Homo sapiens: one gene and its partner. The protein of the gene in region 1 purifies or fractionates together with the protein of each later gene. This does not show direct contact. Each region holds a gene or a part of one and is shown on either strand. Other genes may lie near its edges. The genes, in order: CSN3 and MILR1.

The links.
Region 2: the proteins of CSN3 (region 1) and MILR1 purify together in Homo sapiens (co-immunoprecipitation; one large-scale study listed by IntAct). This does not show direct contact.

What each region holds. Positions count from the first base shown.
Region 1 is NC_000004.12:70,245,332-70,248,827, forward strand, and holds part of CSN3 (kappa-casein precursor), read left to right. Parts: intron 1-2,486; coding exon 2,487-2,519; intron 2,520-3,496. UniProt on the Homo sapiens protein: Kappa-casein stabilizes micelle formation, preventing casein precipitation in milk.
Region 2 is NC_000017.11:64,455,420-64,459,247, forward strand, and holds part of MILR1 (allergin-1 isoform Allergin-1L precursor), read left to right. Parts: intron 1-1,980; coding exon 1,981-2,265; intron 2,266-3,828. UniProt on the Homo sapiens protein: Immunoglobulin-like receptor which plays an inhibitory role in degranulation of mast cells. Negatively regulates IgE-mediated mast cell activation and suppresses the type I immediate hypersensitivity reaction.

The DNA of each region.
Region 1 (3,496 bases):
TTCACAAGTTTCAAAGACCTTGATACTTCTGCCTTTAATATTTGAATCATTAACTTTTGTTATATTCTTCCCCATTATGTCAATTGACTGACCCCTTTCCAGGGATCAATGGTTATAAACAGCTTGAAGGCTTGCAGGCATTATCTTGAATTATATGCAATGTTTTAAGGCTACTGGACTTAGAAAAAGGTTCTGTTTTTTTCTTTTAATTTTTTGACTTGTTTTTATTGTTGTTTTGGCTATTGCCTCTTTTTATTTTCTTGTTCATCTGGGTATTCTAGGCACTGACAAAGGAGGCAAGCATAAATAATGGTATATGTCCTCCTCCTAGATTGTAAAATTTTGAGGAACACTAGTCCTCGTTCTGTGAATCTCTGTAATATTTATTTATTATTAAGTTTAGAGTTGCTTTTAAGTTAACATCTATTAATTAATTCTATTACCTGCATGTTGTGCTTGTGTATAACATGTCCATTAATTCTATTAGGTCAATTCTTGGAGTCAAAATTACCTTTTAAAACTTTGAGTTCTACAACTCAATACTTTGTGGTCACCTGAACATTTGGAACTTAGGTTGTCTCTTTGAGTAATAGGGCTTAAAGTTTAAATCATGAAATGATCTACAAATCCCTGCTGCATAGCAACCTCTTCCTGAGCTACCTGAGCCGGATTCGTCTTTCAAACATTCCTTCCCATTTTCACAAAGGCTTCAGGCCTCAGGGACATGAACAAATATACAGAAAAAAAAAAATTTATTGATTTTACCATTCAATCTTATGAGTAGTCAAATTTATACAAATTAAAACATCAATGTGATACCATGTTATATGTACTATTTTATCCCTTCCCCCAAAATAAAAATAGTTAGATAATATTTTACTAGCACTTATGCACTAAACTGCATAAACACATAGCCTATTGGTGACATTATAATTTGACACAACTTTTCTATACCACAATTTCATAATTTCTATCAAAGAATCAAATCTCATTTGTGAAAAATCATTTTAAGGTATTAACGAAAATTATTAAAAAGGCCACTGGTATACAGATGTTAATCATCACTCTGTTTATAATTAAAATTTTATCTTAATAGATAACGATAAGAAATAAACATTTCATGACATAATCATTGATCACTTAGTTATCAACTATAAAAATGTAACTATGAAACCTATGATATAAATAAAAAAAAGAGACACCACATTTCCTATAAAAATGCAGGATACTTTTTAGACAAGCATATACCAGGAATACATAACATAGGTTGATATCGCATTAAGGTATCTAGATTGTCAGAATTTTTTAAAGTATACTTTCTACAATATTCATATTACTTCTTTTTTTTTTTTTTTTTTGAGACAGAGTCTCGCTTGGTCGCCCAGGTTGGAGTGCAGTGGCACAATCTTGGCTTACTGCAACCTCTGCTTCCCAGGTTTAAGCGATTTTCCTGCCTCAGCCTCCCAAGTAGCTGGGACTACAAGTGCCCGCCACCATGCCCAGCTAATTTTTGTATTTTTAGTAGAGGCAGGGTTTCACCATGTTGGCCAGGCTGGTCTTGAACCCCTGACCTCAGATGATCCACCCACCTCTGCCTCCCAAAGTGCTGGGATTACAGGGTGAGACATGTGCCCGGCCTCATATTACTTCTTTACATTTTAAACTAATGATTTAATATATTTAAAGAAAAGCAAGTCTTTGTCTCAAAGCAAGGAAACTTTATTACCTTCTCAATTTTCTGATTTTCTATACTCACACCTTCCAAAAGGTTTCTAGAGTCATTTTATACCCAAGGAATACATGTGTAATGTCCTAAAACAGAACTGTCAATTTAAAAATATTTAATATTATACCTCCTTTCAAAAGTTTCTAAAAGCTTTGGAGTTTTTAGTTTTATAAATATGTGTCCATAAAAATTGTTTTCTCACTCCTGATTCTCTAAATATGTCACAATCCAAAACTAAGAAAAGCACTATAAAAACAAATGAAAGATGGTATTAAAAACACTATTATTTATATGTTAAGTTTATGCAAGAGGCAATATTTTAAATCTTCTAAGTAAACCTTATGAATCATCTTAGTATGAGAGCAGAGAAAGGAAAAAAGGCTCAATGCTCCTCTAATTTTTAACAATCTAACAATGTATATTTAATAAAAACTAAATAGAAATTATTCATATTTTTCATTTAAGCATATTTGTTGGCATGGGAGTCAGATGACTAGATTTTTCCCACAGTGACTTTTTCATTCTAGGTGGTGATGTTTAAAGACAATATAAACATGCAGTTTATTATTACTAATCAGTTAGACTACTGTTGCTTCTTAAGTAGTCCATAGGCCTCATAGATCACTCATGAAAAATGTTTTAAAAAATAAAAAGAAAACATATTTTGTCTTTAACACAAAAGATTTTTTTAACTGATTTAAGTACTTTTTTTTTCTTTTTTAACTTATTTCTCATTATTTCTTCTTCTGGAACTCCCCAGGCTGTGGAGGTTCAAAACCAGAAACAACCAGCAGTAAGTCTATTTTAATTACTTCTGTTACAGGCATGAACTACAAAATATATTCTGCAAAGGTCAATTGTATTATAGATGCCTTCTGTCTAAAACCTAAATATTTCATTTCCATAAAACAATCTAATAATATTTGCAAGAAAATAATTTCAGCAACAGGTGATATGAATCAACATTGATGTTCATCTGAAAGTTTTATTTTCTTATATAACCCAAATCATGTATCTTTGGTTTTCATGTATATTTAGCAATATGAGAAAACTCTTTCAACATTTCATATTGGAAAAAAATGAAAACATAAGTAAAGCTTAATATTTCCCCTTTCCACTTTTTAAGACAAGGGAAGATCCTTTTCTGACCCATCTTTGAATACTTCTCATACATCTATATTTACTTCCCCTTTCGTTTCCCAAATATGTTTGAATACATTTAAATGTGTCTCGTTTTAGGAGAAATGTTTGCTTTGTAGTATAATTTTGTCAATTTATTTCTATTCATATGGAAAGGTCTACTGACAAATTTTTAAACAGAGGCACATAGATATAGACAATTCTTTATCTAATCTTTTGTGAAGAAAATTAAACCAAAAAAAATCCAAAATCTAAATCCAGGAATCTCTCCACATCACATTATGTTACTATTCTGCTATAGTTTAGGAAAAAATAAATGTGCTCTTGGGCTAATTTTTAAATGAATAAAATTTGAGACCAATTACAAATATGTGGTGAGAATACATACGTGTGTGTGCGCCATTCTGTGTGTGTCTGCATGTTGTGCTTGTGTATAACATGTCAAAGTTCTCAATGAGATTTTTCTCTGTGTTGTACCTACAATAGCTAACATATAAGATCACTTTCCATATATGCCAATCTCTGGGCAATATGGTTTACATTATGAATAAACTCATCTAATTTCTTGAAACAAATATTATATTAATATTATCAAAATAATATTTATAATATTGAAAATCATAAAGTGGA
Region 2 (3,828 bases), on another chromosome or scaffold:
AAACACAAATTCATTAATCACTGATTCACTCATCAAAAAAAAATTTTTTTTTTGAGATGGATCTTGCTCTGTCACTCAGGCTGGAGTGCAGTGGCACCATCTCGGCTCACTGCAAGCTCTGCCTCCCGGGTTCACACAATTCTCCTGCCTCAGCCTCCCGAGTAGGTGGGACTACAGGCGCCTGCCACCACGCCTGGCTAATTTTTTTTTTTTTGTATTTTTAGTAGAGACGGGGTTTCACCATGTTAGCCAGGATGGTCTCAATCTCCTGACCTCGTGATCTGCCCACCTCGGCCTCCCAAAGTGCTCACTCATCAAATGTTTAAAGAGAACACAGGGCCGGCTGCAGTGGCTCACGCCTGTAATCCCAGCACTTTGGGAGGTTGAGTGGGGGCAGATCACTTGAGGTCAGTAGTTCAAGACCAGTCTGGCCAACATGGTGAAACCCTGTCTGTACTAAAAATACAAAAATTAGCTAGGCATGGTGGTGGGCACCTGTAATCCCCAGCTACTTGGGAGGCTGAGGCAGGAGAATTGCTTGAACCTGGGAGGTAGAGGTTGCAATGAGCTGAGATCGTGGCACTGCACTCCAGGTTGGGTGACAGAGTGAGACTCCGTCTCAAAACAGAAAAGAAAGTAAATAAAAAAAAAATTGTTTTTAAGTGTGGACTCTTGAAGTCAGTCCCAACTCGGCCATTTACTAGCTGTGTGACCTTGGGCAAATTTCTCAATCTCTCTGAAGCACAGTTGGTTCATCTGTGGAATGGGCATGATACTATCCACACTACAAGACTGTCGTGAAGGTCAAATGAGATCATGTGACTGGCACGCCTGGCACATGATAGATACTTAACAGCTTTTCTTCCTTTCCTATAATACTGTCTTATTAATGCATTATATATATATATAATAAAATGTATAGCTGGGTTTTTCTGTTAGGTCATAGAATAGGCTATGATCTAACAGAGTGTAGCAGACCCATTTCCTGTTGAGAATTTCTCTTGAATCTAGTTAGCAGGGTTACTTCCTGCTCTTTGGAGGAAGTGAAAGATAATTGTGCAGCTGAGTTCTATAAATAAAAGTACAGTTGGAGAAAACGATATTTTTGGGGCTGGGCATGGTGGCTCACACCTGAAATCCCGGCACTTTGGGAGGCTGAGGTGGGAAAATCACTTGAAGCCAAGAGTTTGAGACCAGCCCGGGCAACATAGTGAGACTCTGTCTCTACAAAACATTTAAAAATTAGCCAGCAGTGTGCACCTGTAGTCCCAGCTACAGAGGCTGAGGCAGGAGGATCACTTGAGCCTGGGAGTTTGAGGTTACAGTGAGCTATAATTGTGCCACTTCACTCCAGCATGGTTGAAAGAGCAAAACCCTGTCTCTGAATAAATAAATACATTGAAAAGAAAATGATATTTTTGGATTAAAAAAACCCACTGTAAATTTACAAGGATTGAGAATAAAAGCACTTCTTGGGCCGGGTGTGGTGGCTCCTGCCTGTAACCACAGCACTTTGGGAATTCAAGGTGGGAGGATCACTTGAGGCCAGGAGTTCAAGACCAACCTGGCCAACATGGTAAGGCCCTATGTCTATAAAAAATAAACATAAAAAAGCACTTCTCAGCTTCATACTTAGAACTGGATCATTGACAAAATTATATTCATTATTAACAATAAATAGATTGTGAATTCTAGGAAGGGCAAGCTTGCACCCCAATTCCTCAAAGCAGAGAGATGCCCTCCACTCTCTGGCTTTCTCAGCACTCAGCTGAGAACCTCGGCTAACAACACACTGCACGGGGTTGGCCACATGCCCATTGGCCTTTCCCAGTGGGCCGTGAGCTTCTTGACTTCTCAGGAAGGGGGTCGTTCATCTTGGTTCCACAGCCTGGAGTGGAGTAAGGGTTCCACTCATATTTGTGGTCTGAGTGAGCACACCCAGTCTGTTTATCCTTTTCATGTTCACTTTCATTCTTCCAGACCCGGTGACTTCCCCAGTGCTGAACATTATGGTCATTCAAACAGAAACAGACCGACATATAACATTACATTGCCTCTCAGTCAATGGCTCGCTGCCCATCAATTACACTTTCTTTGAAAACCATGTTGCCATATCACCAGCTATTTCCAAGTATGACAGGGAGCCTGCTGAATTTAACTTAACCAAGAAGAATCCTGGAGAAGAGGAAGAGTATAGGTGTGAAGCTAAAAACAGATTGCCTAACTATGCAACATACAGTCACCCTGTCACCATGCCCTCAACAGGTAAGAGCAACCTGAGTTCTTTCAGCCAGGTCTGAACTCACTTCCAGAAACTGCAGCTGCTCCTCTGCCCACCCATTTCCCACCATGGCCACCTGACCTTCCAGGTCCTTCTGAAGGTGCATTTGTCAAGGTAGAAGGATAGAAGGAAAACTAGGTCGTGTGCAGTGGCTCACACCTGTAATCCCAGCACTTTGGAAGGTTGTGGCTGGCAGATCACTTGAAGGGTCTCTTTGGTAGAGTCCATGCAAACTCTCATGGGGTTGCTTTCTGCCATAAAGGAACCACAGAAAGGCCTAGAAACTGGAGCAGGAGGGGGACTTGTGGCAAAACTTTCTGCCCTGCCTTTCCAATTTGCATCTGTCTTAGAACTGCCAGGTCTTTTAGTTTTCTTTGTTTTTTCATCATTTGTATGTCTGCCTTTCTTTCTTTTCCTTCCTTCCTTCCTTCCTTCTTGTATGCCTGCCTTTCTTTCCCTTCCTTCCTTCCTTCCCTCCTTCCTTCCTTCCTTCTTTCCTTCCTTCCTTCCTTCTTTCTTTTCTTTTCTTTTTTTCAGAGTGTCACTCTGTTGCCCAGGCTGGAGTGCAGTGGTGTGATCTCAGCTCATTGCAACCTTTGCCTCCCAGGTTCTAGAGATTCTTGTGCCTCAGCCTCCTGAGTAGCTGGGACTACAGGCACCCGCCACCACGCTTGGCTAATTTTTGTATTTTCAGTAGAGACGGGTTTTCACCATGTTGGCCAGACTGGTCTCGAACTCCTGGCCCCAAGCGATCTGCCCACCTCGGCCTCCCAAAATGCTGGGATAACAGCTGTGAGCCACTGTGCCTGGCCATCTTGTACTGATTTCTAATACCATGCCCTCCTGCTTGGCTGTTTATTGCTCCACTGCTAATGATGATGGGTCCAGACTCCTGCACCACCCTTGGCTCAGGGCAAGAGAGGCCTCTGGCCAAGCCCTGTGTTTAGTGGGCTCTGGTCTGGTACCTCCAGGCTATGCACCTTCCCCTAGGCTGAGGGGTTCAGGGAGCCGTGGGGATGCAGCCACCTGAACCCTATACTCCCACTTTTCTGCTCCACACTCTAGGTACCTGGACCAAAATCCCCTGCCCAATCAGATCAGAAGCCATTTCCAGGGCCTGTACCAGTCTCTCCCCCAGCTCATCCTCCCGAGGGTGGCCCACAGTAAGGGTATGAGCATCCCTGAACCTGAGCCAAGGGAGCTGTTTATGGGGGGTGTGGATGGTGTTTGCACATGTGGGCTGGGGCGTCCACGTGCATGCAAGGCCCCTTAGGGTGCAGGTCAGAGCCCAGGTCGGGAGCGGGGCAGCCCGGGACTTCAGTGGGTTCTGTCCATGCTGCCACGTCCTGATGCCAAACTCTGGAAAGTCTGAGAATTCCAGATTCAAACCTGACCTTCCAGGTCCTTCTGAAGGTGCATTTGTCAAGGTAGGAGGATAGAAGGAAAACTAGGTCGTGTGCAGTGGCTCACACCTGTAATTCCAGCATTTTGGAAGGTTGTGGCTGGCAGATCACTTGAGCCCAGGAGTTTGAGACCAGCCTGGGTAA